Regions from separate parts of the Homo sapiens genome. Here all the other regions are linked to region 4. Evidence: fine-mapped expression QTL. A gene starts in region 4. Each other region holds a variant in brackets. All regions are shown on one strand. Distances are between the middles of the regions.

Evidence for each region.
Region 1: its variant is fine-mapped to the expression of RASGRP3 in monocytes after interferon gamma (Fairfax 2014, PIP 0.95).
Region 2: its variant is fine-mapped to the expression of RASGRP3 in whole blood (TOPMed, PIP above 0.99).
Region 3: its variant is fine-mapped to the expression of RASGRP3 in monocytes (TOPMed, PIP above 0.99).

Annotation. Positions count from the first base shown.
Region 1 is chr2:33,444,875-33,453,075 of GRCh38, forward strand. It overlaps a transcript of RASGRP3 not described here. Among named protein-coding and RNA genes, the nearest start is that of RASGRP3, 28 kb to the right of the region's middle. The variant A/T (reference allele first, on the strand shown) is at 3,753.
Region 2 is chr2:33,507,877-33,516,077 of GRCh38, forward strand. RASGRP3 (RAS guanyl releasing protein 3) reads left to right here. Exons shown (of 18, transcript NM_001139488.2): 2 at 3,834-3,966; 3 at 7,134-7,330. The coding sequence starts at 7,261. Among named protein-coding and RNA genes, the nearest start is that of RASGRP3, 35 kb to the left of the region's middle. The variant G/A (reference allele first, on the strand shown) is at 4,301.
Region 3 is chr2:33,552,196-33,560,396 of GRCh38, forward strand. It overlaps RASGRP3 (RAS guanyl releasing protein 3), which reads left to right. Exons shown (of 18, transcript NM_001139488.2): 15 at 3,336-3,372; 16 at 6,016-6,141; 17 at 6,477-6,835. RASGRP3-AS1 (RASGRP3 antisense RNA 1) reads right to left here. Exons shown (of 4, transcript NR_146505.1): 4 at 2,850-3,119. Among named protein-coding and RNA genes, the nearest start is that of RASGRP3-AS1, 13 kb to the right of the region's middle. The variant G/C (reference allele first, on the strand shown) is at 3,139.
Region 4 is chr2:33,472,882-33,481,082 of GRCh38, forward strand. It overlaps RASGRP3 (RAS guanyl releasing protein 3), which reads left to right and starts at 3,768. Exons shown (of 18, transcript NM_001139488.2): 1 at 3,768-3,826. RefSeq lists enhancers at 3,104-3,423, 6,884-7,053.

The DNA.
Region 1 (8,201 bases), 28 kb before region 4:
AATTTTAGGTATAGGAATAGATTCAATTACACAGCCTAAAATCGAGTTCCAAAAACCATTATAGACATTATGCTCCTAATAGTGCCTACAACTTAGTACAAAGAAATAAATCTTTAGCAATGGAAACACACACAAGTGCACATGCACACACGCACATACTTCCAACATTGTGACCACTTGCTGATGTCTTTTCTGCATTTTGCATTGTCTTATTTGAAGGATAGGAAGTATGCTATAATAATCTTCTATAACTACTATGCCTTGGGGACTCTCATGCCAGTCAGCTGGTGTGATAAAGATAGCTTCTGTGTGCTAAATACGGAGATACAAAAATAGAACTGGTGGAAGTGGATAAAATCAGAAGACACTGTAGGTTCTTATGGCCCCACCAATGGCAGAGACCTGGAAACATAGGTCTCTGAAATCCTGGCAATGAGTTGCAGCCAACTGGAATGATCACATTTTTGGTTCTTGTCTTATTCCATGAGGGTTTGGTTATGAAACTAGAGTTTAACCAGTCAGAAAATTCTGAAATCAAAATAAAAGTTAAAGACATATATAAATAATGACCATTCATTGCATGATTTACAAATTGGTAATGGTCCAAAAGTTTGTTTTTAATAATTTTCTTGGCCCTCTGAATTCACTTTACATTTTCCCCATAGAAACAAAGTTATAAATAGTGACTGCATACTGCACCTAAAATGCCACGTATCTACAACGAAATTATTACAATGTATTTATAATATATTATTTATTCTAAACATGTATGCATTTGAAATTATTCAATGAAATCTAACTATTGATGTACTATTTCTACATTAATACATTATATCATATATTAATATGCTAATAATTATATCACATTAATATATTAATAATATGTTAATTAACCAAACAGAAAAAGTATATACTGGATCAACAAAACCACCTTGAATTCAAAGCAACAAACACTAGTAAAGAATCCAGGAAGTGCCAGGTGCTATACTAGAGTCAGGGACAAGCGTAAGAGATAAATCATATTTATCTTGTTTCTTAATATTGGAGGAAAAGCAAATTTACCAACGAAAAATGAGGAAGTAAATGGAATTCTTTTTTTTAAAGGGGACTGCCTTATCTAAGTGACCCTTAGGTAGAGAGACCTTTTTTAGGCTTTTATGTCTAATTTTACTGTTAAACTTTGTGCTTGCCTTTTCCTGAAGGACAAAGTACGACTAGTTCTGCTGTTAATGTGTAGCCATTCTTTTTTGTTGGTTCCCAAATAGGGTAATTTTGTTCGTTTGTTTGTTTGTTTTGTTTTTGAGACGGAGTCTCGCTCTGTCGCCCAGGCTGGAGTGCAGTGGTGCAATCTTTGGCTCACTGCAAGCTCCGCCCCTTGGGTTCACGTTTCTCCTGCCTCAACCTCCCTAGTAGCTGGGACTACAGGCACCCGCCACCACGCCGGGCTAATTTTTTTGTATTTTTAGTGGAGATGGGGTTTCACCATGTTAGCCAGGATGGTCTCGATCTCCTGACCTCATGATCCACCCGCCTCGGCCTCCCAAAGTGCTGGGATTACAGGCGTGAGCCACCCACACCCGGCCCAAGTAGGGCAATTTTTTTTGGAAATTTTTTGGATTTTTTTTTTTTTGGTTCCCAAATAGGGTGAGATTTCTGTGAAGTAACACTTGGCTAAGAAGTAGAAGAGAGGAAAGTGAAGAGAATGGTTAGAATTAAATATGCAGGCACATGAGAATTGTGCATGATTGTCCAGTTCTCCTTGGAGAAAGGGTGAGGAAGACTAGAGACTGAGCCTCAAGAAATGATCCTCAACAGCCTCTAGGGTGGGGAAAAGGAAGGGAGGGAATGTGTGCAATTTCACATTCAAATTGCACATACAAATTTCCGAGTCAGTTAAAGAAAAATCTCTTGGTGAGTGCCATTAACTGTTGGATCCTGCAGAGACTACCATTAAAAAAATATATCAATAGAAAATGAGGAAGGACTGGGCCGGGTGCGGTGGCTCACTCCTGTAATCCCAGCACTTTGGGAGGCCGAGGCGGGTGCATTACGAGGTCAGGAGATGGAAACCATCCTGGCTAACGCGGTGAAACCCCGTCTCTGCTAAAAATACAAAAAATTAGCCAGGTGTTGGTGGCGGGTGCCTGTAGTCACAGCTACTCGGGAGGCTGAGGCAGGAGAATGGCGTGAACCTACACTCCAGCCTGGGTGACAGAGCGAGACTCCGTCTCAAAAAAAAAAAAAAAAAAAGAGGGGGAAGCAGTGACCAAGTCAGGCATGAATGGGCCTTCAGGGAAGGTCAAGAAATCTGGGTTGAGTGGTCCCACTGGTTGATTTCACAAAACAGTGAGAATCAGGGACCTACAAATGAGTTGAGATTATGTATGTAGCCCAAGGAACAGGAGGCTGGGCCAGGGGGACAGACTGTTCTGGAACACTCTCTTATTTCTTCTGCTGGGAACTAGGGCTGTTTCTCTGGTAATGGAGGCCCTCTGACAAAGACAAAACATAGGGTAATTGTGCCACATGCTACTCAAAGAGGTGCCCCAACCTTGGAGTGTGCACATTTTTTTTTTTTTGAGACAGAGTTTCACTTGGTCACCCAGGCTGGAGTGCAGTGGTCCGATCTTGGCTCACTGCAACCTTCGCCTCCTGAATTCAAGTCATTCTCCTGCCTCAGCCTCCTGAGTACCTGTGATTACAGGCGTGCACCACCATGCCTGGCTAATTTTTTGTGTTAGTAGAGACGAGGTTTCACCATATTGGCCTTGAACTCCTGATATCAAGTGATTCGACCGCCTTGGCCTCTCAAAGTCCTGGGATTACAGGCGTGAGCCACCGCACCCGGCCCATGTCTGTGTTTTCTATCTGAAACTGTCTCCTCACCTTCTGGTCAATGAATGCATCCTTCTTCAATGTCTTCTCTCAATTTCTTTTGTTTCTAGGATATTTTCTTTTAAAACATCCATATCTCTTCTTTGCCATGGAAACTACACCCAATCTACCTGAACCTGCGGCACCCCTCTGATGACCCATTTGGATTCTCTGATTTCACTGCCAAGATTCTCAGTGAGTATTCCATCACATACCACCTTTATTTTCTCAAGTCTCTTTCAGATTTTAAACACATAAAATCTGATCACATGTTTTCAACCCCACTGAAACTGTGATGTCAGAAACTTTGTAAATTATGAAGTGAACAACATTTTTGTTCTTCCTCATTTGATGATGAAGCTGTCACCAGTCTTGAGTGAATTTGCCCTCTTCAGAAATGCTATAACATTTATATACTGTAATACTATATAAATACTTTCTTATATATTTAATCCCATGTCTGGTGGTGTTTCTTTAATTTATTCAACTACTATTTGCCTCTGTGGTTAATTTTCCAAGAGTTTCTTCTCTCAACAACCTAATTATAAATTCCTTCATGTCTAGGCCTTATTTTGTGCTTTAAAAAAAACTCTCTGTGGTACACTAATGTTCATAGCAGCATTATTTATAATAGCTGAAAGGCAGACACAACCAGACACAACCCACATGTCTATCAACAGATGAAGAGATAAACAAAATGTGGCATAGACATGCAATGGGAAATTATTCAGCCATAAAAAGGAATGAAGTTCTCATATATGCTAAAATATGAATGTACCTTGAAAACATCATGCTAAGTGAAATAATCCAGACACAAAAGAACAAATATTATATGATTCCACTTATGTGAAATATCTACAATATGCAGATTCATAGAA[A/T]CAGAAAGTAGATTAGAGGTGGCTGGGGGTGGGGGGAAAGGGAGAATAGAGAGTTATTTCTTAATAGTTGTAAAGTTTCTGTTTGGTGTGATAAAAAAGTTTTGCAAATAGTGGTGATGATTGCACAACATTGTGAATGTAATTAATACCACTGAATAGTACACGTAAAAATGGTCAAAATAGCAAATTTATGTTATATATATTTATTACAATTTAAAAATTAACTATATAATATAGCAAAACGCAGTGAATTGTATGGTATGTGAATTATGTTTCAATAAACCTATTTTAAAGAAATCCCTCTGGGAACCAGATATAACCTTACATATAGTAAATGTTTAAGTAATATTTTGTATCATTTGTTGTAATGAGATTCATTAGGACACAAATTTACATGTGGTAGAGATTAGACATGTTTTTCAAATTATGCATACCAGGTATAACATGATTACTCTCTGTTTGGGGCTTTAGGTAGGTTTAGACAAAAGCCAAGTGCTGTGCAAGTGTGATTGAGACCTTAAACAATGTCTTCATCATTTCTACCTCTCCCAGATTACCAGACATAAGATCAGGTGCATGACACATACCAACTTCCTAATCTTAAATTTGGTGAATGAATGAAAGTATTAACAAAGTATGCAGAGTTACCTTGCATATATATGCATATATGTTTTTTCTCAACCAACCTTTCGTCATTGCAATTGAGACATTACTTTTTCAGACATCTACTTTTAAGACATAATACGTTATACTATGTAGATAGCATAGAATATTGTGCAGGAATCTAGAAAAAACCATGTTTGATGACATACAACAGAATATTTCATGACATTGGAATATTTAATAATATTTAGGCCGGGCGCGGTGGCTCACGCCTGTAATCCCAGCACTTTGGGAGGCCGAGGGGGGCAGACCATGAGGTCAGGAGATTGAGACCATTGTGGCCAACATGGTGAAACCTCATCTCTACTAAAAATACAAAAATTAGCTGGGCATGGTAGTGCATGCCTGTAGTCCCACTCCTAGGGAGGCTGAGGCAGGAGAATTGCTTGAACCTGAGAGGCAGAGGTTGCAGTGAGCCGAGATTACACCACTGCACTCCAGCCTGGTGATAGTACGAGACTCCATCTCCAAAAAAAAAAGGAATATTTATTACAGTGAAAATATTTATGATATATAGCAAATACAAAATGCAAACTTTTGTATATTTGACCATTATGCATTTTAGTAAAGATAAGAAAGGTATTTTATTACTTATTTCTGTGTAACAAATCATTCCAAAACTAAGTGCCTTTAAACAACTGTAAGCATTTATTACCTCACATGATTTCTTTGGGCCAGAAATTCAGGAGAAGGTCAGATTAAGGAGTTTCATTTGTGAGGTTGCAGTCAGTTGTCACTTGGGACTAGAGTCTTCGGAAGACTCAATAGGGACTAGAGATTTACTTTTCTTATCGTTATTTCCAGCCCCCAAGCTTTATTAAGATATTGACAAACTAAAATTGTATATATTTATGATGTAAAACATGATGTTTTGATATATGTATACATTACAAAAAGATCAAATCACCTATTTAACATACTTATCACCTCATATACCAATCATTATTTTTGTGGTGAGAACATTTAAGATATATCCTCTTAGCAATTTTCAAGTATACAATACAATATTAACTGTAGTCATTATGCTGTACAACAGAACTTATACATCTTGTCAAACTGAAATTTTGTACCCTTTGATCAAAACCTCCTCATTCTCACCTCTTCCCAGCCCCTTGCAATCCTCATTCTACTCTCTGTTACTGAGTTCAACTTTTTTAGATTTCACAAAAAATGAGATCCTGCAGAACTTGTCTTTCTGTGTCTGGCTTATTTCACTTAGCATAATAGTCTCCAGGTTTATCCATGTTGTTGCAAATTACAGAATTTTCTTATTCTTTAAGGCTAAATAGCACTCCATTGTATATACCGCATTTTCTTTATCCATTCAACTGTCAATGGATGCTTAGGCTGATTCCACATCTTGGCTATTATAAATAATGCCACAATGAACATGGAGTGTAGGTATCTCTTTGACATGCTGATTTCATTTTCTTTGGATAAATACTCAGAAGTGGGATTGCTGAAGTATATGATAGTTCTATTTTAAATGTTTTTTTCTTTTTTCTTTTCTTTCTTTTTCTCTTTCTTTCTTTCTTTTTTTTTTTTTTTTTTTTTTTTTTTTTTTTTGAGACAGAGTCTTGCTCATTCGCCCAGGCTGGAGTGTAGTGGCATGATCTCGGCTCACTGCAAACTCCACCTCCCAGGTTCACAGCATTCTCCTGCCTCAGCCTCCTGAGTAGCTGGGACTACAGGTGCCTGCCACCACGCCTGGCTAATTTTGTTTTTGTATTTTTAGTAGAGACAGGGCTTCACCGTATTAGCCAGGATGGTCTCGATCTCCTGACCAGGATGGTCTCCAACTCCTGACCTCGTGATCTGCCCGCCTCAGCCTCCCAAAGTGCTGGGATTACAGGTGTGAGCCACCGTGCCCAGCTGAGCATTTTTTCATATACCTATTGGCCATTTGTATTTCTTCTTTTGAGAAATACCTCTTCAGGTCCTTTATCCATTTTAAAATTTGAATTATTTGTTTTATTGCTATTGAGTTGCTTTGAGTTCCTTACATATTTTGGATATTGGTCCCTTATCAGATATAATACATAGTTTTCAAATATTTTCTACCATCCCACAGGCTGTCTCTACAGTCTGTTGATTATTTGCTGTGCAGAAGCATTTTTGTCTGATGCAATCTCAACTCTCTGTGTTTACTTTTGTTGCCTGTGCTTTTGGAGTCATATCTAAGAAATCATTGCCGAGACCAATGACAAGAAGATATTCCCCTATCTTTTCTTGTAGTAGTTTTATAGTTTTCAGGTGTTAAGTTTAAGTTTTTAATCTATTTTGAGTTTAAGTTTTAATCTATTTTGAGTTCATTTTTGTATGTAACGTAAGGGTTCGATTTCATTTACTGCTGCTTTCAAAGTTTTTTCTTTGTCTTTTGAGAATTTGATTGTAATGTGTCTTGGTGAAGATCTCTGTATTTAATCTGCTTGGGGCTATTTGGGCTTCATAGATCTGGATGCTCATTTGCCTCTCCAGATTTGGGAAGTTTCTTATCATTATTTCTTTACCTAAGCATTCTGCTCTTTTTTCTTTCTTTGCTACTTTTGTGAATCCCCTAATGTATATATTGGATTGCTTGATATTGTTTCATAAATCCTATAGGCTTTTTTCATTCTTACTTCTTCTTTGTTGTTGTTGTTGTTTCTCTGGCTGAATATTTCAAATGATCTGTCTTTGAGCTCACTGATTCTTTTTTCTGCTTGATTGAGGCTACTGTTGAAGCTCTCTATGGAATTTTCAGTTCCATCACTATGTTCTTTAGATCCAGAATTTCTGCCTTGTTCTTTTTTATGGTTTCTATACCCTCATCGAATCCCCTATTTTGCTTTCATATTGTTTTCATGATTTGATTTAGTTATCTGTATTCTCTTATAGCTCACTGAGCTCTGTTAAGATGATTATTTTGAATTCTCTGACAGGCAGTTCATAGATCTCCATTTATTTAGGGTCAGTTACTTAATTTTGTTGTTTGGTGGTGGTGTTTCCCTTATTATTCACTATCTTTGTGGCTATATATTGATGTCTATGCATATGAAGAAGTAAGCACCTGTTCTACCTTTTACATATTGGCTTTGGAAAGCTCTCACCAGTCTATCTAGAGATTCTGGGTGGGTTGTTTGGTGGAATCTGAGGGCAGACTTGCTCCTGTATTCTCAGGCAAGTTGCCTTGGTGCCTGAGTCAGCAGGCAGGAAGGCCTGGAGCTTGCATCTCCTGGGGTGGGCCTCGATTCTGGGTTCATGGGAGTGAATCTGGACCCTGTGTTTGCAGGGGCTGGCCTGAAGTCTAGGTTCATGGGGGCCATCCTGTCCATGAGATGGACCTTGAGCCTGAGTTCATAGAGGCCCACTTTGTTCTAGGATGGGCCTGGAGCCTGAGTCCACACAAGGGCTAGCCTGGTTACTGGGACTTGCCTAAAGCCTGTGTCTGCAGGGGTTGGCCTAGAGGTTGAGCTGCTGTGGCAGACATGCCTCTGGGTGTAGAGCCTAGTGCTGTTGTATTGGTGTGGTGCTTGAATGGAGCTGCAGCCTGATGCTATAGAGGCCTGCTTGCAGCCTGGGGCCATAGGGGCTGGCCCAGCATTAGGGTAGCCCTGGATGCCCTTATCCACAGGTGCTAGCCTAGAGCCTGGGATCATGAGGGCTGCTCTGGCACTGGATTTCACTGAAGTGGGCCCGATGCTGTGGTCCATAGCAAAGTAGGGTGTTCAGTTCACTCTCCTTCCCCCACAGGGAAGGTATCTTTCTCTGTGCTGTGCACCCCTTGGGGGAGGGATGATATCAGTA
Region 2 (8,201 bases), 35 kb after region 4:
GTAGTAAAGACCTATACTGTGGATGGGGAAACCAGTTAGTAATTGGTTAAAATCATTCAGGCAAGAGATGATGGTTGTCTAAACCAGCATGTGTCCATGGAGAAGGGAAAGAAGTGGTTGGTGGCAGAATTTCTTTTGAAAATAGATTCAGAAAGATTTACTGATCCATTGTCTATGGGGAATGATCAGAATCAAGGATAATTCCCAGATTTCTAGCTAGATATTTGGTTGGCTGATGGTGCCATTCCCCTGCGATTGAGAAATTGAGAGTGGAGGGGAGGAGAAACAAGTTTGTGGGAGGAAAATGATGAGTTCACTTTGGCAGTATTGATTTAGAGATGCCTGAGATTCCAAGGAGAAATTTTGTTTTAAATGATTTCCCTTGATCATATCAAGGGGAAATTTTGAGTTAACTTCTAGATATCCATTACGGACTTCTGAGTTAAGACCTGGGCATCTTTAAGTGCTAAGAATTAGCAGGAAAAAAAATATTGGAGGAAGAGGCAGAAGAGTGAGAAGTTAATTCACGTAACGTGGTCCCTGGGAGGACAAGAGTAAGGGATCCATGCACAGGTGGAGGGATTGACCTTGGATAAAGAAGAGGGCCACTTCTTTCAATGCAATAGCAGGAGAGACCCCCCAAAAAGGGCATCCATGTGGGTAAATTTCTCATTTTTATGGAAGGAAATCAAGGAAGTTTCTGTCTGGCAACTTCCATTTACTCTAAAAAGGAGACACGGTCATCTGCCAGAAGGTATGATGGATACCATTCTGACGTTTATCGAGAGGAGAAAATGTACAAAAGCCATTGTGAAAAGAGAAGAAAGGAACCAGAATTATCAGGATTATTTCTGTCAAGAGTAGAAGGCTGATGTTTTTCTTCTCCTGGAGGTATTTGTTTGTTTTTTATTGTTGTTGTTTTTGAGAGGAAGTTTAGTGTTCCTTGCTTTTTGGGCTATTGTATCATCTACCCATGTCATGTTTCTAAAATTACTTCAGATAACTTCTGGAACAATGTTTGTGGCAAATCTCCCCTGCATTCAAGAAGCAATTATGAGTTTCTATTGTTATGGTCTAGTTACACTTTCCATAAGTCTGAGCCTCAGAACTAAAGCAAGGCTGGCATTTGTTAGGTGGTGTCCTCACAAGGGCACAGATCCTAGCTCCCATTTCACCTAGGTTTGCTTGATATGGTGAAGAGGACGTTAAGATACCATTGGAAATGAAATAATAAGAAAATCAGGCAGGGTGTGGTGGCTCATGCGTGTAATCCCAGCACTTGGGGAGGCTGAGGTGGGTGGATCACTTGACGTCAGGAGTTCGAGACCAGCCTGGCCGACATGGGGAAATGTCCGTTTCTACTAAAAATACAAAAATTAGCCAGGTGTGGTGGCACATGCTTGTAATCACAGCTACTTGGGAGGCTGAGGTGGGAGAATCACTTGAGCCTGGGAGGCGGAGGTTGCAGTGAGCTGAGATCATGCCACTGCACTCCAGCCTGGGCAACAGAGCAAGACCATCTCAAAAAAAAAAAATCCAGATATGATCATGCCATTCTCCTTTCAAACAATGGCTTCCCGTTGCCCTTTGGATAAAGGATATACTCCTTACTAAAGCTTACAATACTGTCATGAGCTACTTCCACTGACGTTTTAGTCTCATCTCTTGCCATAACACTTTAGTCATTGTAAATGTCTTTTCGATTTCTCATAATTGAAAAGACTTCATCTTCATTACTAAGCTAAAACTCCTCAGGCTTCTAGACTAAATTAGTGCCCCTCCCTACCTGCTCTGTGCTCCATAAGATATTTTATTGTCATTGTTCCTTTAATTCTTTGCTAGACTATAGAGGCAAGGATTGTATCTGTCTTGCTTATCCATTTATCCTTCACTTCCCCGACACCAACCCCTTCTACCAGCCACTCTAGTATTCTGTTCGGTGTCTGGTGTCTAGTAGATCCTCAGTAAGTATTTATCAAATAAATTAATTGTCTTTCAGAGTTTTTATTATTTCATTTACTAACCTCAATCTTAATTCTCCTATGGAGTATCAGGTAATATAATCACAGCACTTTAAAAAAAAATCTCATGTCTGTGGTGATAAAGAGAAATTAAGTTTGCATATTTCCAGAACAATGAATGCTGACATCTTTGGCATTAATCTTTAAGACTTCAAGGTTTGTAACAATTAACACTTGTATTCATGAAGGATTAGTCATTTAGAGAAACCTCTTTGTCTCCATATGGAGGTCATATGAATGTAAAGATATTTATGTAGTCATTTATGCATAAAGATAATAACTGCCATTGGCAGGGAAGGATCTTCAAGAAATTCTTTTATCTTGGAATAGAGACAATGTGATAGACAAGACAATTGTTGAAAGTTCTAATATGGCCAACATCATTTCAAAACGATTTGTTGAATACTTACTAGTTACAATATTTCACCTTATAAATCCTACAATTCTAGAGCCAAGAGAAAGCTTCCCTGTCATTTTGGCATACTTCCTAGATACCGTCTGGGAATTTAGTCTACAACATCTCTGACAGTCATGACCTAACTTTGGCTTGAGAACCTTTGAGAATTGGAGTCCCTTGCTGGTGAGGCTGCTTGGCCCCCTAATAGGTGCTCCAGTGTCATCGTATTTTTTCTTCGAATATCTTTTCTCTTCTCTAAATGAACACCTCTCTCCCTTTCGCTTCTACAAATTGGTCCTCTACTTCAGGCCTCAACTTAAAAGACTTTTAATATGGGAGGGGAAGAAGTAGTGCAGGTAAAAGGAGACCCTTTCCCTGAGCACTCAGCGTTCTGCAGGCTCCGTGATGGATTCACTTTATGTGACCTCACTAACTCCTTAAACAGTCTAGTAAAGTACGCAGCATTATGGAATTTTACTCAGAGATAAGTCAGACTTTCCCCATTCAGTTACCTAATGTTGAAACCCGATTTTTTTTAATGGAGAGGTTCTGAGTCAAGAGCCTGGTATGCTCATTTATATCTGTTAATGAACAGTTACATGGAATTGGCTACCTTTTATTATTTCTAAAATTGGGAGCACTGTTCTTAGTGTCCTAGGCAACCTCAGAAGGATGTTTTTTGACAATAGAGGCTTCACAAGTCATGTTAATGAACGTCCTTTTGCTACAAGAACATATTGTAGCCTTTGAAATCACACCCAACAAAACTCTATTGCCCTTTAAAAATAACACTTTTCTTTTAGAAATAATTCAAACCCTGGGAGAAATTTGGCTTATTGTGTCCCTTTCAGACTTGGGAGAAAATGTATATGCTGGAGAACAATAATTTTCATGGCCGCCAGAGAGTACCTATCAACACCACAGCAAGTCCTAAACAAACAGCAAGTTCTTAAGGCCCCATTGGGAGACTAAACAACCTGCTCTAAAATAACATTGACATTCATGTTGAGACAATCAGTAGTGATTTAGGGTCAGAGTTTAGTGATCATGACCACAGACTGTTTTAAGGATTTACTAACATTTCAAAGTCAATGTTTGGAAATTCTTAATGAGTAATCCACTGATATATTTGCATGAAACAGTAGTTTATACTATGTGTATAGAACTTGGTTTTGTTGCATATGTGGGTTTTTAATAGGCTGCAAAAAGCTTACTTGATTTAAAAAAAAATTGTCTTACCAAATAACTATTTTGAATATTTGCCCTTGTTAATTGATGTTGTGGGTGAAGTTTAGACAAAATCTCAAATACCACCTATAACTCAAAGTTTTTGAAAATGCTTTAACACAATGTGGATTCTTTGGGGTTATCATGATCTAATTCTATATGGGGGTTTCTTTCTGTTCTTTTGTCAGGTTCTCCAAAATACTTATCATTCAGGTTGAATAAACCAGTTCTACAGACTGCTTCTTCCATGCATTTCCCAATGATGCTAGCTGCCCTTAAAATTCTTTCAGATTTGGAACTGTATCTGTATGGAAACAACAGGTAAGTATTTCTTTAAATTGTCATAAATTATGTAAGAATTCTAATAAAAATTAAATATGCCTAGAGAAACTAAAAGAAACGTGCTATGATGTTAATAGGAGTTATCTTTGTATGATGAGATTAGGGATAACTTTTTCCTTAATGTCCTGTTTTAAATAATAAGTGTATATTGCTTTTGTGATAAAGAAGCCTTATTCTGAAAAAGGTAGTTGTAGACACAATAATGTCCACACATAGGAAATGAGATCTCAGGTAAATGTGCAGGTGACAGAAGGTGGAGCAGAGACTCAGACACATCTACTGATTGCAGAAACAGATTGTAACCTGATAGCCC[G/A]GCCCACCTGGCCCGTCGTGTGCCAGTTTCTTTGCAGATCAGAAATATAACCCTAAACGTGGTGATGAGTCTTTGGTTCCAGGTTATCTCTAACCCCTTATGGGGATGTGAACACCTTCCCCAGACAGCTCAGCTGAGTAATTTTGGTTTTGAATTGAGAAACCAGTTTAGTCTAGGCCTATTTGTTCTAAGTAATATGTCTACTCTTCCGTGAGTAACAGGCTAAAAAAAAATGTCTGTATACACATGAAGGTAATCAAACTTGTTAATTGTTCAATCTTGACTTTTAAGGGTACTGATAGAGTTTACATTAGAGGAATCAGAGAAGTTCTGCCCCAGAATGTCTTGGAAAAGGCAAGTTCTAATGATGAATATAGGCAGATTCTATTAAGTTTAGAAAACTGGCAGAAATTTTTGTCCCAGTGATGTTTACTTAAAGCTGATTTAGTAAACAAACTTCAAAAAGTCTCTTAAAAATGTATGGTATCTATACACACTCACATAAATATACTCATATTCAATGACAAACCTCTGACAAGTTTCATGATATTCATTTCCTCACCCATTAATCCACTCGTTTATTAATTTAGTGAATAATTTTTGAGTATCTTTTATGTGAGAAGCAAAACCTTAGGTGTTAAGGTGTATACCAGAGAACAAACACAAAAATCCCTACAATCTTGGAGCTTATGTTTATGACACTATAGAGATTTAAAAACAAATAAACAAGTAAAATATATAGTTTGTCAGATGGTGTTAAGTGTAATGAAGAAAAATAAATCCAGGAAAGGCAGTAGGACATGCCAAGTGAGAGGTGGGTGAGAGCTGAGAGGTGCGTTGTTTTAAATAGGTCAGGAAAGGCCTTACAGATAAGGTAACTTTGTTAAAAGATATAAAAAAGTTAGTTCCAGATGACTTTAATAATCTGCTTTCACAAATCATTTCAGCAGCAGAATTGGGAAAGCGTTTGATCCAGCGTTTCTGCTGTTTTTATTGAACACTTGAAATAACCCTTTATTTTATGTTCTAAGAGTGGTACCTTCAGCACAAGAATCTGGTTCTTTCACAGAATTAATAGAGGGCAAACATTTTTTCCCCAGAGTTATGTGCCTGGTGAACAGACTCATTCCAATGTCACTCCAGTGGTCTCACTGAACTAATACAACCATACATATGGACATTAGGTATTTTTTCCTATTCATTCACATGTTTGTTTTCTGAAGTTGACTATGAGCCTGTTGAAGGTAAGAATGGGACAATGATTTGTTCATCTTGGCAGCCTCAATGCCTAACCAAGTTCCTGGCATAGGTCAGGTGCTCAATGATTGCCAGTTGAATAAATAAAGTTCAAGAGTAAAATAGACATTGACTTTAAACAGCTCACGAGATGAATCCTCAATGGCTGCATTTACCTACTAAAATGTCTAAAGTGGATAAATGTCTTACAACATGACAGCCTCCCTCCTGCTCCAAGTCCTATGGGGACCTGGCATCAAGGACCTGCTCTGTAAAATAAAGTGATAATGTCTATCCAGCAGCGATGCTTTTGAGTATAAGCAACTATAAGAGGCTATTGCCAATCACGTTTTCCCCATGACAGTGCTGGCAAGTGGGATAGCTCTCATCCTCACATTTTCCTTCTGTCTCTGTAACAGATAATCTGTCTTACATCTTCTTTCTGAGATGATGTGGAGGAGTGATACCCTTTACACTAGATTAGCAGGCAAAACTATGATGGTTTGTGATATCCATGCTTGTAGAAGTAATAAGAAGAAAGGGAACACAGAAGCTTTATTTTATAGTGGAGTCCTGACTCTAGGCCTTAATAATTGCATGGTTTTGGGTAAGTTGCTAAATCACTGTGAATCCCATCACCTCATCTGTAAACTGGGAATAATAATTACTACCTTACAGCATTGTTGTGAAGGTCAAGTTCAATAATATATGCAAAGCATTCGGAATGGTGCATAGTACATAATGTGGGTGTTCAATAAATTAACAGTAGTATTTTTACCACTGCAGAGAATAATCTTACTCTCAGGCAAGTAGAATCTGTTACAGTTGTTGAATATTTATGTAATCATTGAGGATGTTTATAAATATATTTGCTTCTAAAAATTTTTTCCTTACATATTCTTTTATTAATATTAAACCAAGTAACATTTATAATATTCTTGAATATCTTATCACTTAAGAACATGAGGAAAGGTGGCCGGGCACAGTGGCTCACACCTGTAGTCCTAGCACTTTGAAAGGCTGAGGTAGGTAGATTGCTTGAACTCAGGAGTTTGAGACCAGCCTGGGCAACATGGTAAAACCCCATCTCTACAAAAAAAAAAAAAAAAAAAAAACCCAAAAAATAGCCAGGAGTGGTGGTGTGTGTCTGTAGTCCCAGCTACTTGGGGGTCAGAAGTGGGAGAATTGCTTGAACCCGGGAGGTCGAGGCTGCTGTGAGCCGAGATCGCACTACTGCACTCCTGTACTCCAGCCTGGGTGACAAAGTGAGACTCTGTCTCAAAAACAAGAACAAAAACAATCAAAAAAAAGGATATAAGGAAAGTATAAAACATTGCATTAAAAAATTTCAGCAGTGAAGTGGGATGGTATATAACAGGGAACATTTCCATGGTCTCCAAGCAGCATCCATCCCCGAGAACAGCTTAGCAGGTATTTTGGCATCATAAAAGGTTGATGTAATCTCAGTCACTATGATACTTTTCTTGTACAAAGATACAGTCTATGGAAGTCATTATCTTTTCAGGTAGGAAAGTGATGCTCTAGTGGGGTCTGAACTCTAGTCTAATAACTTTCTCTCTTTTTTCTTTTTTTTTAGAGTTTTCTTGAAGTACAACTAAGGACAGGTCACCACTAGGCACTAACATCGCTGACTTGCATGATTATGGAGATGGTCTATCTGATGCTGAAAATGTCTCTAGTTTTTTGACAACGGCTAAATAACCATGGGATCAAGTGGCCTTGGGAAAGCAGCAACATTAGATGAACTGCTGTGCACTTGCATTGAGATGTTTGGTACGAGCCTTTTCTCCTTTCATCTCTTTTGGATCTCTCGATGCTCTCACTTTCCTCTATTCAGAGGCAAGTTGCTTGTAGAACAGAGTTCAGTCTCTGTACCTTGGTATTTAAGGCCTTTCGGATGGACCCGGGTCTGTCTCTCCAGTTTCACTGCCCTCCATATTTCTTTCCCTTTACTGCCCACAGCTCATACCCCAGTCAAACTGTCTACTTAATGTTTCTGGAACATTCTCTGCACCTTTCTACCACCATCCATTGGTCATATTCCCTTCACTGAAATTCTGCTTCAGGGCCCTCTCAGATGTTCATAGTACCATTCCTAGTCTTCTTGGTCAGGAATGCTGCTTGCCTCTTCCCCCATCCCATATCCCATTGTAATTCCTTATAGCACATGGCATATGCCTCTGTAATTGTTTCTTGGTCTTTTGACTCAGTCTTTTGACTCAGACGAATGTGAGTAGCACAATTGACTACATTCTACATTCATACACGTCATATCTGCTACTAGATTATACACTTTTCAGCTGTATGCTCCTTGTGTTGTTGTTTTCATATCCACCTCAGCATTTTGGGTTATCCGTTGCACAAAGAAAGTCAACCCACATGGGAGTAGTTATTTATTAAATTGATTACTATAGAAACCAGAGTTAAACCAGTGCAGGGTTGCCAGATAAAATACAGGATGACCAGTTACATTTGAATTTCTGACAATCATTTTTAGTGTTAGTATGACCTAAATAATGCCTGGGACATACTTACAATACAGAAATTTATCATTGTTTCTCTTAAATTCAAATTTAACTGATTGTCCTGAATTTTACTAAAACTGTCAACTGTAGACCAGAGGAAGGGTAAGACCCACCCACCT
Region 3 (8,201 bases), 79 kb after region 4:
AGCTGTGATGAAGTAGAAAGCTCTGGACCTGGAGTCTGGAACCCTGGGTTAAAGTTTTGCCCTTGCTAACTCTATGTCCTTGACCAAGTTATTCACCATCTTTGGGTCTATTTCTATCTGTAAAAGGGAGTTAATACTTACCCACCATGTTGTTGCATGATAAAATACTATTAGACACGTTGCACGTCACATGGCTCGGAGTACACATTTTTTATGTATTCCTTGATACTTTGAGAGTTTAATTGAAATTAACTCATTTAAAATTTTTACAGCTGTTTTTGTTTTTAAAATATATTTAATTTTATTGGTACGATTTGATTTGATCTTTACTGACACTCATGTCAAAAAGCCCATTGGTTTTCAAAGGAATTTATAACTATAGCTCTATAGATGTGTCATTGAAAGGAATTGTGGGAGAATGGTTCCAGTGCCGGAACCATCTGCTTTTAAAATAAATTCCATTTTAAGTTTAAGGAAGACAAACAGACTTGCTCTGCAGAAGATTTACTTTAGAATTAGAATTCCAGAACTGAAAGAGTGTTAGTAATTCCCTTATTTTGTAGATGAAGAAACTGAGGTCTGGAGAAGTTAAGTGACTTCCCCCAAGGTCACACAGATCATTAGCAGCAAAACCATGAGTCACACCCAGGTCTCCTGACTCTCAGTCCAGTGTGCCTTACACCACAATTACTCCAAATATGACAGCAGCCGGTGGTCTCAAATCAAAGGACTGTGGGAAATACTCCTGCATACCCATCCACATGAGTTCATCCTCTACTGTTCTTGGCAGGCACACTGACCCAGTGCCTCTTCCTAGCTACTGTTTGTTCCTGGCTATTAAGTAAGCATTAGCAAACCTACCTCCCCACCCCCACCCCCAGCACCCTTGCTTGACTGTATCTTTTTCAGCAGTTCCTGCAGCAATGCTAATAATGTAACATATCTGGATATTAGGATGTCTCTTCTTAAATCTTATCCTTTCTTGTCCCACCTCAGTGCCTTTGCTCACACAACAGTATGCAGGGGCAATGGCTTCCTGTCTTTCCCTCAAGTGACACATTCTTCTTTCCCTCACTAGCTATGAGACCTTGCCAAGGGACTTTACCTCTCTGTAGGTCAGTCTCCTCATCTGTAAAAATGAGAAAAATATTATTACCTACACCATAAGGACATCATGAGCAATTAAATAAGCTAATATGTATAAAGAGCCTAACTGTGCCTTTCACATAGCAAGAGTTCAAGAAATGTTAACTATCATCATTATTATTGCTATTATCATTACCAAGGGCTCCAGAGAAAGAATTTCCAGGTTGTGGGAGATTGCAAATTATCTAACTTCCTGGATCATCACATTCACCTTTTACAAAAGAGAAGCAAACTAGATTATCATAAAGATCAAGCTGTGATGATCCTGGCCACCACTGCCCTTTTCTGGATCATGCCCCTCTCTCTTCCAGCCATCCTTGCTTCTACTTAGTTGTCAGATAATCCTTCCTGTCCCTAAGACAAAATACTGCTCTGTCCTAGGAGACATTTGCATTTTATTTATTTATTATTATTATTTTTTCTTTGAGATAGAATCTCTCTCTGTCGCCTGCAGTGGCGCGATCTTGGCTCACTGCAACCTCTACCTCCTGGGTTCAAGTGATTCTCCTGCCTCAGTCTCCTGAATAGCTGGGACTATAGGCACACACCACCATGCCCAGCTAATTTTTGTATTTTTAGTAGTGACGGGGTTTCACCATGTTGGCCAGGATGGTCTTGATCTCTTGAGCTCATGATCCGCCCGCCTCGGCCTCCGAAAGTGCTGGGATTACAGGCGTGAGCCACCGCGCCCGGCTGACATTTGCATTTTAATATGTATTCTGAAGGACCAAATAGCTGTTAAGGCTCAAAGGAATCCTTGAGTTTTCTACTTGTGGAAGTTCCTTGTCAAAAAGAAGTAAGGAGCAGTCTTTGTATACTCTTGAGTCACTTCACATTGGCTGTGACTTACTCTTCTGGAAGAGCGGGCCATGCTGCCCACATGTGGGGGCATTGTTCACTTATAATACATTGTGAACATTGTGAACGGCACCCCCATCAGTCCCAGTGGGCCCTGCTTTTTCAACATTATTTTATTAAGTAGATAATAGCCACCTAACCCAAACACAAAGAGGTTAGCAATAGTTCTTCTCCAACTTGAGCTAAGCCCATTTAATTACCCATACTGTATGCCTCTGGTGAATCTGTCACCCCATGCAAGAGGTGTGGGGAGGCACAGAAGGGCATGGCAAGGCCCTCTTCTTTTTTTTTGAGATGGACTCTTGCTCTGTTGCCCAGGCTGGAGTGCAGTGGTGCGGTCTCAGCTCACTGCAAGCTCCGCCTCCTGAGTTCATGCCATTCTCCTGCCTCAGCCTCCCAAGTAGCTGGGACCACAGGCGCCCACCATCATGACCAGCTAATTTTTTTGTATTTTTAGTAGAGACGGGGTTTCACCATATTAGCCAGGATGGTCTCGATCTCCTGACCTCGTGATCTGCTCTTCTCGGCCTCCAAAAGTGCTGGGATTACAGGTGTGAGCCACCGCGCCTGGCCAGGCCCTCTTCTTTATGGTGTTTAGAAGGAGTCTGTCTGGAGAGCGAAGACACCACCACCAGGATGTCCCTGAACCCCCTGGGCAAACGCTCCCTCGTGGAACTGCAGGCCCTCACATCTCCCCTCAGGGATTTGTCACTTCCTACTTGTTAACCACGAGGATGTCACAGACTCCTTGCTTGGCAGAATCTGAGCTTTTTCGACATCTCCTACAACCCTGGCACAGGCCAAACATAGAGCAAATGTGGAGAATGAAGACATGAATAACTAAGATCATTTCCTCTTCTGTATTTTTCCACGGGACAAATACTACTCAGAAAATAGCCTAGCAAAATCCAAATGCTTTCACATGAGGTGCGCTTCTTCCATTGCTTCATTTCCTGTAGTGGGCGCTAAGAGCAGCTAGTGTCATTAAAAAGAGAGAGCCAGGGGCTCCCAAAGACCAAGTGGCCATCTCCTCTGTACATTTTGCTGAGAGCGCATCAGGCCAAAGTCTGGTGCATCAAACTTTAGTAGTTTCCCATCCCGGCTCCCAGTTGGCTCTGAGAAAGAAAAGGGAAA[G/C]GAAACTCATGTTATCACCACAGCTGGAAGGGGCCGGGAGAGGGTTCTTCTATCTGGCAGGAAGGGTGTTAAAAGTGGCTACATCCTGTTTGTGCCTGGCCAGTCCTGAAGCTTCCCAGGACTTCCTTTTCAGTGGCCTTGTTTTCCTTCCAGATCTATCCTCAGATTCCCTGACATTCCTTTGTCTTTTGTTACAGCTCTGGGGCATAATCAAGCAAGGATACAAATGCAAAGGTAAATCAATGTTATTTTGTTACAATTTTTAAAATGTGACATTTTGGGTAAGAATCAAATTTGTCTGGTTAAACTACAAAAGCTCTTGCCATTATTCGGAATTTCAGTCTTTTGGGTCAACGGCAACTGAGAATGATTGCCTCTGAGGAGGAGTTTCTGGAGTTTTGGAGAGCTAAAATTGGAATTTTATAGCTTGTTACAAACCACTCTTATCAACACACATAAATCTAGTTCTTTGGAATCAGCAGCATCCAGTTAAGGTGGGAATTCTGAGTGGGACAAGCCTAGCTAAAATACTGAATATAAGAACTTCTTCCTTCAAAGAAAAACACCTACACACTATTTCTCTAATGCACAGGCACTTCTTCCCACTCACACTTAGCTATTCCTTTCTCTACTAAATCACATAGATGGTGACAAAAAACGAGGAGAAAACTTAAAACGTAATTTTGTCCTTTTCAATGAATGCTTTCCTCTATCTTTCCCATTTAATTAAGTTTATAAACAATTGAATCAAATATATTTGACAAATGCAATATGCATGTATACTAAGCATTTAGGAATGTGTTGCTACTTGTACATATATGATCAAGTATACATTACTGTTGTTTAAGAAGTTGCTGGACACTTTATGTGGACAGTTTATATGGTTCTTCTAATAATCTTTTTTTTTTTTTTTTTTTTTTTTTTTGAGACGGAGTCTCGCTCTGTCGCCCAGGCCGGACTGCGGACTGCAGTGGCGCAATCTCGGCTCACTGCAAGCTCCGCTTCCCGGGTTCACGCCATTCTCCTGCCTCAGCCTCCCGAGTAGCTGGGACTACAGGCGCCCGCCACCGCGCCCGGCTAATTTTTTGTATTTTTAGTAGAGACGGGGTTTCACCTTGTTAGCCAGGATGGTCTCGATCTCCTGACCTCATGATCCACCCGCCTCGGCCTCCCAAAGTGCTGGGATTACAGGCGTGAGCCACCGCGCCCGGCCTCTTCTAATAATCTTATAAAGCTTTTGAAAAAATATAATAAAACTACAAAAAGAAACATCTTAATCACAGAATACCTTCAGATGAATGTTGTTCCCCAGGGATGCCTTTTTTCTCCAGTCGTTTTCCAGTATTTCGTCCTCATTTTGCATGAACAAAAAGCTTCCCAAATCTCAATGGAAGCCACTGTTTAGTGCTCAGAGGGACCTTCCCATTAGTGCTTCTCTATCACTTGCCTTGGTCTAACTTAGATTTTTACTTTCAAGCAGCAAAGATACTGCAAGATCTTATTGCCCAGCAGTGAGTCATTAGTTTTATTCTGGTTTCTATCCTCATACCCTAAAATACACACACACACACACACACACACACACACACACACACGCAATTTTATAAAGATGAAAATCTATTACACCTTTGGATTATCTCTTGTATTTTCTTAATGGCACATAAAGTGAAAAAAAAAATGAATTGAAATAGATTGAATACATCATTAAGACTATTTGAAACAAGGTCACTTAGGGGAAAATGGGTACTGGAAATAGTTAGAAAGGTCCTCCTTGATGGTAGGAGAGAAATGATCATCTCTATTCAATGATTCTCAGTGAAGTGCAGGACCCTCATCATAGGAAATAATTGTGAACCACCATCTGAAGTGGCCACATTTTTCTACCCCAAGTAGTAATTAACATTCTACTGTCTTATCTAAAACATCCTAATGGGCAATTCACAGACTCTGCTGCACGCTGTTTCAAAGCCATAAGCAAATATAGAACATATTTACTGAGCATATGCCCATCTTGTGTTCTGTTGGAAGCAGAAGATATAATCACTGGCCCTGAAAGGTTTTGGAAAATGAAGAAGAGTAAAAAAATCCAGACAAGGCCGGGCACGGTGGCTCACGCCTGTAATCCCAGCACTTTGGGAGGCTGAGGTGGGTGGATCACGAGGTCAGGAGATCGAGACCATCCTGGCTAACATGGTGAAACCCCGTCTCTACTAAAAAATACAAAAAATTAGCCAGGTGTGGTGGCGGGCACCTGTAGTCCCAGCTACTCGGGAGGCTGAGGCAGGAGAATGGTGTGAACCCGGGAGGCGGAGCTTGCAGTGAGCCGAGATCCCGCCACTGCACTCCAGCCTGGGCAATAGAGCGAGACTCCATCTCGAAAAAAAAAAAAAAAATCCAGACAAGTGCTGAGTGGAGGAACACCTCACAGTAAATGATCAGAGGCAGTTGGCCTGGGAGAGACTAGAAGCTGAGGCTTCTTGCCCTAATGCTGGCATAGGCTCTCTTTGTGGGGATTCCGTCTAAGCCTGGGAAAGACTCTCAACCCCATTTGATTTGCATTTAGTTTTGGGCAAAGGCAACTGACCTCTCAGGCTGGACTCTATTTACTCCCTAGGCACAATTGCTCATTAGGTCCTCAATTGCATACAGAACCAAGCTGAGCAAATCTAAGAGAATTTTCGGAACCTCAGGAAGGCAAGTGCAGACCAATGGCCTCTTTCCAGATCCTAGACACACCCCATGGGCCTGAGCTCAACTCTGAAATTCAACACAGAAACTGGGGTGGGGGAGGGGAGGGCTGACAAATCAAGTGCCACCCTGGAAACTGAATCAACATCAGACACACTAATCATCTGCGACACCCTTGGAATTTTTCAGACTGTGGAGCCAATTGTCACAAACAGTGCAAAGACCTCCTGGTTCTGGCCTGCAGGAGATTTGCCCGGGCGCCCTCCTTGAGCAGTGGTCATGGGTCACTGCCTGGAAGCCCCTCGCTGCCCCCAGGTAATGCCCTCTGCTTTCTTTGCTGCCATGGTCTCTTTCTGCTTGCCTCCTCACACTTGGACCTCATTTAGGTTCTGGGTCTAAACCCGGTCAGTCACTCTAAACGCTAAGGCCTTCTTTAGGGTGAGCAGCAGTAGCTAAACCCTTGAATCATCCTTGCTTCTCTCTGCTTTCTAGTCTCAGGAATATGTAACTTGCCTGCGGCTAATTGAGTTCTGTCCCTTGTCGGTTCCTCTAGAATGTTGCATGCCAGACTCGTGCTGTTTGCACTAACCTTGATGCTTTGCTGTCAAGCAGTCAGATGTCAAATAATCACCACCCTTTTTCACTTCCAGCGCAGGATGAGGTGTTTGAGTTCCCTGGAGTCACTGCTGGACACAGGGATTTAGACAGCAGAGCCATCACACTGGTTACAGGCTCTTCTCGCAAGATCTCTGTGAGGCTACAGAGGGCCACCACCAGCCAGGCCACCCAGACTGAACCTGTCTGGTCAGAGGCTGGCTGGGGGGACTCGGGGTCCCACACCTTCCCTAAAATGAAATCCAAGTTCCATGACAAAGCAGCAAAGGACAAAGGCTTTGCCAAATGGGAAAATGAGAAGCCCAGGGTGCATGCTGGTGTGGATGTTGTAGACCGGGGCACGGAGTTTGAACTTGACCAGGATGAAGGAGAAGAGACCAGACAGGATGGTGAGGTAAGTGCTAGGTCAACCCACAAAGAAAACCAGAAGAAGGAGGCTGAAAGTGCTGAGATGAGCGTTACAGAGGGTCTGGGGGGCAGCCTGGTAGTTCTGAAAGCAGAATGGTTGGGAATGAAGACATGTATCACTTTTAGTCTTGCCACTGCCTAGCTATGTGACCCTGGACATATGTTTCTTCTTTATGGATCTCAGTATCATGATTTAAAAAAATTGAACGAGATCAAGTTCTGAAACCTATTGAAGGCTGTCATGTGTGCGTACTGAAATGATGCCCCAGAAACCCATGACTATATATCCAAAATACCAGTACACGATACAGATCAGCTTGGTTTTCCAAGCTAGAACCAGGGCCCAGACTCAAGAAAGGCAGTAGAAGCAAAAGACTTTTAGATAAAGGAGAATTGGAAACTTTTCATTCTGCTCAAAAGAAGCTTTTGACAGCATCATGGAAAAGGGGGTGGTGAGAATCAGAGATACGAGGCCCTTGAGGATCTCTAAACCAGGCTCTGCCTCCGCATGAGCAAAATCATGCAAAGCAAAGTAGGATGCAGATGGAATTTGTTAGAGTATGCTGACACAGAAATTGATTCAAGATGGAGTTAGATAAATTTATTAGTTAACAGTCTATAGTGTATTAAGAGAAAGGATTTGAGAAAATTGGCATGATATTCCTAACATTTAAAGCAATGTCATGGAGGACAGCCATTGCCACCCTGTCGAATTGTTCTCATAAACAGAATATTGGGTTAGGCAGAGATCCTACTGGATCAAGCCAGTGCTCTTTAGTCTTATGGGTGGTCCTCCACATTCCACTCTTCAGGAGACCTAAACACACGTCTCCATACATTTCCCATGATGAGAAAAACTCCAGTGACCTTTAGCCAGAAATTCCCCTAGTTCCTTCCTCACTGAAGGCAGTGCATAAGGAGGCCACCCATTATCTCTGGTCATACAAGGTTTATTGTAAGTTTCTGCTGAAACACTTTTTTTGTTTCTATAACATCCACTTTTAAAAACAGCTTTGAGATGTAATTCATATGCCATGAAACTGACCCATTTAAAAGTATGCAATTTAGTATACTTTCAGTATGCTTTTAGTATACTCACAAAGTTGTGCAACCATCACTACAATCTAATTTTAGAACATTTTCATTATTCCAAAAAGAAATCCTACACCCACGAGCAGTCATTCTCCCCCAACTCACCCCAGCCAACTAATTTATTTTCTGTCTCTATAGATTTGCAATGCCCACTTTATTTTTAACATTTCCCCCACTGATCATCTTGACAACTGTATCAGTCCTATCCCCCTACTTCTTTTACTGGCCTAGCACAGTTCAAGCTGGGAATATAAACGAGA
Region 4 (8,201 bases):
AAAAAAAGCAAAAAGTGTCGGTTGCCTTTGGTCTTTGGGGACTTGGAAAGAGCAGTTTCAGTGAAGTGAGGGAAAAAAAGCCAAGCCACAAGTAGGTTGAGAGTAAATGGGATGTGAGATGGTGAAGACAAGTATTTTTTCAGGAGTTTAGTTGTGGAGGGAATGCAGGAGTTAGGGCAGTAATTAAAAGAGCAAGTCTGGCTGGGGGCAGTGGCTCACGCCTGTAATCCCAGCACTTTGGGAGGCCAAGGTGGGCAGATCATGAGGTCAGGAGATGGAGACCATCCTGGCTAACATGGTGAAACCCCATGTTACTACTAAAAATACATGTCTCTACTAAAAATACAAAAAATTAGCTGGGCGTGGTGGCGGGTGCCTATAGTCCCAGCTACTCAGGAGGCTGAGGCAGGAGAATGGCTTGAACCTGGGAGACGGAGCTTGCAGTGAGCCGAGATCGCGCCACCACACTCCAGCCTGGGCAACACAGTGAGACTCCGTCTCAAAAAAAAAAGCAAAAAATCAGAAAGACTGTTGTTAGGATATAAAGACAATGTGAGAACGTGAGCATGTTTAGCTAATGAGCGCACGCTGAGAGCAAGAGAAGGCGTGGTTGTTGTCGAGAGTCCTAAGCAGGTGGGAGACACAGGGTGAGACACAAAGCCGAGGTAGGAGGTGGCCTCTTGACAGGAAGAGGGCACCTCTTCTTGAGTCGAAGACAATGCTTGGAACTGGTAGGGAGTGTGGGCAGAAAGATGGGATCTCCCCCATTTCTTTGCAAGGCTGTGTTATTGTAGAACCTTTAGTCACACTCCTGGACTCTGACTGAAAGGGTCCTGGGTCTTGGCCTCTGTGTTAACAGTTTGCTTCATAGGGAGGATTGAGGATCCATCCCTTCCTCTCCTGGCTATAGAACTAGAAAAGAACCTCTACACCAGTGGTCCCTAATGTATTTGGCACCAGGGACCAGTTTCATGGAAGACAATTTTTCCATGGACCGGGAATGAGGGGATGGAGATGATTTCAGGATGAAACTGTTCCACCTCAGATCATCAGGCATTAGACTCTCATAAGGAGCATGCAGTGTAGATCCCTCGCGTGCACAGTTCACAATAGTGTTCATGCTCCTATGGGAATCTAATGCCACAGCTGATCTGACAGGAGGCAGAGCTCAGATGGTCATGCTCCCTTGACTGCTGCTCACCTCCTGCTGTGCAGCCTGGCCTCTAACAGACCATGGACAGGTACCTGTCCATGGCATGGGGGCTGGGGACTCCTGCTTTACACTTATGATGTAGTTTGGATGTTGTGCCCACCCAAATCTCATGTTGAGATGTAATTTCCAGTGTTGGAGGTGGAGCCTGGTGGGAAGTGATTGGATCTTAGGGGCAGATTTCTCATTAATGGTTTGGTACCATCCTGTTAGTGCTGTTCTCATGATAGTGAGTGAGTTCTTTTATTTATTTGTTTATTTTAAGACAGAGTCTCACTCTGTTGCCCAGGCTGGAGTGCAGTGCAGTGGTGCGGTCTTGATCTTGGCTCACTGCAACCTCTGCCTCCCAGGTTCAAGCACACCACCACGCCCGGCTAATTTTTGTATTTTTAGTAGAGACAGGGTTTTGCCATGTTGGCCAGGCTGGTCTCAAACTCCTGACCTCAGGTGATTCACCCTCCTCAGCCTCCCAAAGTGCTGGGATTATAGGCATGAGCCACAACACCCAGCTGATAGTGAGTTCTGGCAAGCGCTGGTCATTTAGAAGTGCCCCCTGTCTGTCTTGCTGCTGCTCTGGCCATGTGACTCATCTGCTCCCACTTTGCCTTCCACCATGATTGTAAGTTTCACGAGGCCTCCCCAGAAGCCGAACAGATGCCAGTATCATGCTTCCTCCATAGCCTGCAGAACCATGAACCAATTAAACCTCTTTTCTTTATAAATTACCCAGTCTCAAGTATTTATAGCAATGCAAGAATGGACTAATACAACTTAACTTTCCTGAGGCTGTTGTCGCTGTTGGGCATTGAAGAGTTTCTAGAAGTCCCTGTTTCTTTATGTGGCATGCAATGGATCATCAGAATAATTAACCCAGTCAATGGTAAACAAAGTGATGGATGGATGCCATCAGATCACAAAAGTTTCTATTACTGTAAATACAAGGGGGTAAGTAAATCAAAATAATGTTTCAAATCCTCAGTAGGCCTCTTTTTCTGTTTCTAATTGAAGATTGTCACATCAACACATAAACAAAAATGCCTGTGAGGGAAATGTGTATTTTATGCATTGCATTTTTATATCTGAAGTTTATTTCTATTACTAACTTGAAATGCTGAGGAAGGGATTTGTTTTGGTGCTTACAAAATTCTCCCATTTGCTCTTCGGACTCTCACAAGTTGACAACAAATTACTGCCCTGATAGTATGGTGAGACTGAGGGTTTTTTGTCTTTTTCTCTTATTCTAGAAAACACTGTATCCTCTATATGGAGGGAAATTTCTGGTTTGATTAACACTGTAAATAATTATGAGACAAAGCCTAAATATAAAAGATTACTCACACAGGCTCTTACACTGAGTAAGATATTATGTGTTAAAAATCAGGGTTAATAGTTTAACAGGCACATTATGGTTCAGAAATCCCCTGGGGGACTTCAACCATCTTTTCTGGATGTTCACTTTGCCAAATAGGCTGCCTCTATGTCATATCTCTACCTGAAGGGCAGGCTCAGACACTGATTCGGGGAAGTGTCACCCTTACTATACCAAGAAGTCAGACATCCAAGGTCAGACACTACGTAAAGTCAGATACTTCAAGGGCTTTCCTTGGAAGGGAGGATGAAAAGGGAAGGGTGGGAACATCAGCTCAGGTGAGACATATGAATTCAACAAAACATCAGGGATGGTTTGCCACGTTTGCGAGCAGCACAGAAAACGGCAGTTTGCTCCAAGTTCCCAGCACACCAAAGGGGGCAGTAGTGCGTCTGTAAAGCGCGTTGTCAACTTGGTGATAATTTCTGTTTGCATTCACACTCGCCGGCTGATAATCTCAGCTGCTCGATGCAATTCAACAGATAACAATGCGGAAGTTTGGTCTAAAGCTACCTGAAATCACTTCCAAGAGCTCTTCAGATAAAGCTGCCTTTGATAGTCTTCATTAACCCCTCCCATATTTGCCCCTCAGCGTCCCTTGGCTTAGCAGCCCCGGCCTTTGAAGTCCAACCTAAGCATTCTTAGATGGTGAGTGAGGGTCTGCCTTCCCCAGCACCAGCCACCTAGTCAGGCTTGTGGCTCGTCTAACAAACTGGAGCCTGAGATTCTGAGAAAACGAAACCAAACAGTTGTACTCCGGGGTTAACACAGAGCAACTTCCACCTGCTGTGCGAGTTGGTGATCCTCTCTCTTGCCGTTCGAGAGCCCCAGTGAAACTTGAGTGAGATGAGAGAGCATGGAGCCTGCCAGTCTCCCCCTCTGCGCACACACACACGCAAACACATTTAACTTTCCACTTGCAGTGACCTGCCCTTCAGTGTGACTTATCAGCTGTTTGGCTTTTGTCACTAAAGGAAAACAAATTGTGGAATATCCCGCTCTGCATGCTCATGAGATGGCTGAGCCAACTCAGGGGTTATGAGGTGGTTTGCGAGTGAGGAGAAGAATGATCTTCAGTTTCTGACCTCCTGGCACGGTGGCGGGCGGTATTTATCAGGAGGTACATGTGACTGGTTAAGACTCAGAGCCCCAGCTTGAAGGAAACAGCTGCTCTCGGCGTGCTCCGGCACTTGGCAGCTGGACAGGCAGAGTGCTGATGTGAAAAATACCACGACAAAACCACCCTAGTAAGTAACTGGAGAACTTTCCTCTCTCTCTCTCTCTTTCATTCCCTCTCCGTGTGTGTGTGTGTGTGTGTGTGTGTGTGTGTGTGTGTTGCAAGCCACCAACAACTTTTGATTTTGATTTTGGTTTCCCTCTGGCACGATAGAAGGAGATATTTTATTTGTACCTGTTAACAGCCATTGGTGTTTTCACAGCCCTTTTTTAGAACCTGTTATTTTCGGCAACGTGTCTTGTAACTTTGAGGATGAATGGGGCATATGGCTTCATTCCTGTCTAGGAAACAGAAAGTTTGTTTCCCAGTGTTCAAGATTTTTCTAGTCCATGGTGTTTAGGTTCAAAGTCAAGTTCAGGTTATGAAGTAGAGACTTCATTGAAGTGAGTTGATGACTAGATTTGATTTTAATCTGTTTCTACCACTGAAACCTGAAAACGTAGTTGTTTAAAGTAACTTGTGAATTTATTGTATGGCTGATTTGATTTTTCCTATTCAATTTTTGAGAATATCTCATTTAACTGTGTAGAACTGTCTGCAATATAGAAGACTGACAAAATAATATTTAGATTCACATTAGAAATCATATTTAGATTTCTTGCATGGTTTCCAACTAATTGAAAGCTGTATTTTATAGCGACTTTTTTTCCCCCCAACAAGCTAATTCACCTTCATTACTTTAAAATGTTCAGTTGCCCCTGGTCTTCCTTCACCTTCATTACTTTAAAATGTTCGGTTGCCGCTGGTCTTCCTTATTTTAGTGTTTTCGTGATACTCAGGCTGTTTTTTCCTTGTTTATGACCTGACTGGGAAAGTGCTGCCTGCAGCTGATGATTAACTCTGGGAGGCCTGGCATCCAAATTACGGAGAGAACCGGCTCCTTCTCAGGTTCATTCAGCAGTAATGGTGCTTGCGCTTGGGCGAGCAGCAAAGCAGGCACCATGCTGGAACTGAGCTGTTGTTCGGTGACTTTTGTCCTTCCTTGGTAGTCACCAGACAGAATGCTTCAGAGGAAAGGCAAAAGGGGAAAAGAGAGAGGGCAGAGCTCTAAACTGATGACGTAAAGCTCTGAAAGTGACAGGTCTTTGAATCAGAGGCTGCAGGGAGATAACCAAACAGGTTCCTGTTTCTGGAGATCGCGTGGATCTTGAGGAGGGTGGGCAGAGAGGGGCTGTTTTTATTTGAAGTCTCACCAAATAGTTGTTTTGCTTGTGATAAGCCTAGGACAACCTGGAGTGCGCTTGTTTCCTCGTGTGACAAATGGATTCTCATACAGGCTCAAGCTATACGGTTTTCTTTCGCCCTCTGCCCCCTGCCATGAGGGAACACTGTTCTCTCCCCACCCTTACCATCCTTTGTTGTTTGTGGAGAATGGATTAAAAATGACCCAGGGCACGGCACTTCTGCGATCGAGTTTCCCTCAGCACAGTGGGTCTTGAGTACCGCACCAACCAATGTTCTCTGATGGAAGCAGTTTCGGATGCCCTGTCTAAACAAATGGCTAGTCTGACATTGAGAAGTTCTCCACCTTCTTTTCCTTCAAATGTAGAAGAATCCACAAAATGTAGAGTGGCCAATGAGGAAAAATAGTCCCAACTTCTCTGTTCCTCGGTATGGCATTTGTGTGAGGTCCTTGGGTCAGCCCGCGGCCATGTGGTCTGTGACTTCCCTGTCTGACTGCTGGGGGAGGGGGTTCCTCCTGAGTCATTCTTTAGGGAGTTTGTTCCTGGTATAGTTTCAGATTTTCCACAGGTTGATAGTGGAAGAGAACCCTCTGGTGAAATTGTGTCTCCGGAATCATCGAGCCTCCCATAATAAAATGGAATGTCTAAATGGGAGCAGTTGAATTATCCAACTGCTGTATTTTTGAGAGCCAACAGGCTCCTTTGAAAAACCCATGCCTTTTCAAAATATTAATAGCAAAATAATAAAAAATAATGATTTTACTTGCAGATAGTACATCCATTGACTCAAAGACTTTTTGACCTGGATAGGAATGATAGAATGTGCGATTTAACTCTTTCGTATCAAAGATGAGGAAACTGTAGCAAATTTATCGGAGTTACGGTGCAGAGCCAGAAGAGAGAGCTCAAGGCTTCCATCATAATTTCAACGCTAATAACAATCCCTTACTTTTATTGTGCACTTACTCTGCCAAATGATGCGCTAAACAAGTGTATTTATTTTCATAGTCTCCTCACAATAACTCTATGTGTTACATATTATTATTCCAGTTCTATAGATAGGAAACTGAGGTTCTTGACCATACGTAACACAGACAGGAGGGACACCCTTAGTTACTTGACCATATGTAACACAGACAGGAGGGACACCTGGATCTGACTGTAGAACCTGTATACATTAAAAAATAAAAGTGGAATCCCACACATTTAAATGTAAAAACTCACAACATGCAAATGAGAGTATTTCCAGCACAATATGATTACACACACAATGTGTGTTATGCCCTTTTCGAGCTCTCCATGACAGGAAGGGCTAGGTTTCCCCCTGTGACAGTCCAAGCCCAAGCTCTCTCTATAGGATCGCTGGCTGGTGGCATGTTTTTCTCTTTGAAAATAGTTCAGTGACGGTCTTGATGTTGGTAAGAACAGCAACCGGGAACTTTGTTATTAACCTCCAGCACACGGCTCCCATGCCCCTTCTGGCCTTTCCCTCCAGTTTTCCTGTCACTCCTTTCCTTTGGAGGACAGCCACTCCACCCATGCCCCACCCCAAATAGCTGGCTTAGTGTTGATAAAGCTATTATCAGACCCATCCCCTTTGCTCAGCCTGGAAGGTTGGTTGTCCGAGTAGGTTGTTGATGAATAGAAACCATGCACTCTGCCACTCTGCGCTGTTTTTTTGAGCTGTGGGTGTAAGGGGTGGGTCACGGGGCAGGGGACTAGCTGGCAGTGGTGAGGGAGGAGAGGTATGCTTTTCTTCACTGCCTGCACCTGCCATTTACCCTGAGTCCTACTTCTCCACACACCAGTTGCATATCTAAAGCTCTGACTGTCTCACGGGTGGGCCATAAACCTGTGGATTTTCTGGGTCATCAGACTTGCAGAGCCCTTAAGAAACCTGCCTCCTGAATCCTTTTAAAAATGTCATTTGGCTGTCCACATTCCTCCACTTTAGGTTAAGTGTCAAAATTAGGGTTGGAGATAATGGGAAAGAGCACCAGGTAGTATGTAATCAACAGGGAACCTTTTATTAATCAGGAGGAAAATCAAGCAAGTATGCCATGTGTGGATGTTTCTGAGGAAGTTATCAGTGTTTCTGCAAGGTCGTTCTGGCAAGATTACACATTTTGAAGATCAAGCTATTTATAGCATGAAAGAGGAATTTTTTTTTTTTTTTTTTTTGAGACAGTCTCGCTCTGTCGCCCAGGCTGGAGTGCAGTGGTGAGATCTCGGCTCACTGCAAGCTCCGCCTCCAGGATTCACACCATTCTCCTGCCTCAGCCTCCTGAGTAGCTGGGACTACAGGCGCCCGCCACCATGCCCGGCTAATTTTTTTGTATTTTTAGTAGAGACGGGGTTTCACTGTGTTAGCCAGGATGCTCTCGATCTCCTGACCTGGTGATCCACCCGCCTCGGCCTCCCAAAGTGCTGGGATTACAGGCGTGAGCCACTGCGCCCAGCCCGCATGAAAGAAGAATTTTTAATCTTTAATTCCACCTGCCTGCTGCCTCTAAAACTAAGCCCAACTCAGTAGTAGTCAGTGATGTGGTTTGCTAGACCAAAACCACTGGGAATTGCCTCCAATCCTTGCTAGGAATTGCTCACTTCTGTAGAAATTGGCTTTGTACAGGGGGTGTTATATGGGTACACGTGAAGTGGACTCAGAATCACGACAGAGTCCACAAGTCATACTCTGGAGCTGATTTGAAAGAAAATAAAATGCTTGATTCGTTTTGGGGTCCTTTTACAATAAGGAAACACATTCTGGGATACAATGCCTATTTTGTTTCTTTGTTTTTGCCCAATTGTGTGTTTCAAAGACATCTGCTTCCAAAAAGTTAACTTTCCTGGATCCTCCTTTCCCTTGGTATTGATTGCTCACTTATAGTCCCTGGAGTTAACAGCTCCTGTGTCATGTTTCCACTGCTCTATGGGATTTGAAGTCTTTGGATTTTTTTGCTGTTTCAAGTGATTATTATAGCTTCAGAGTCTGTGGTGTGCAGAGTCGCTGTGCTTTGATCTTTGAGCTCATCTTTGGTATTGAGAAGTCGAACCCCTGCATTTATATATGCCGGCATAAGGCACTTTCTTGTACCTTGCCATAATCCCATGAAAGAGGGAGGGTATCATCACCATTGTTTTCAAAGAGGAAATAGAGGACGAGAGAAAATGAGTGACTTGTCTATGGTCATGGGAAAAGTA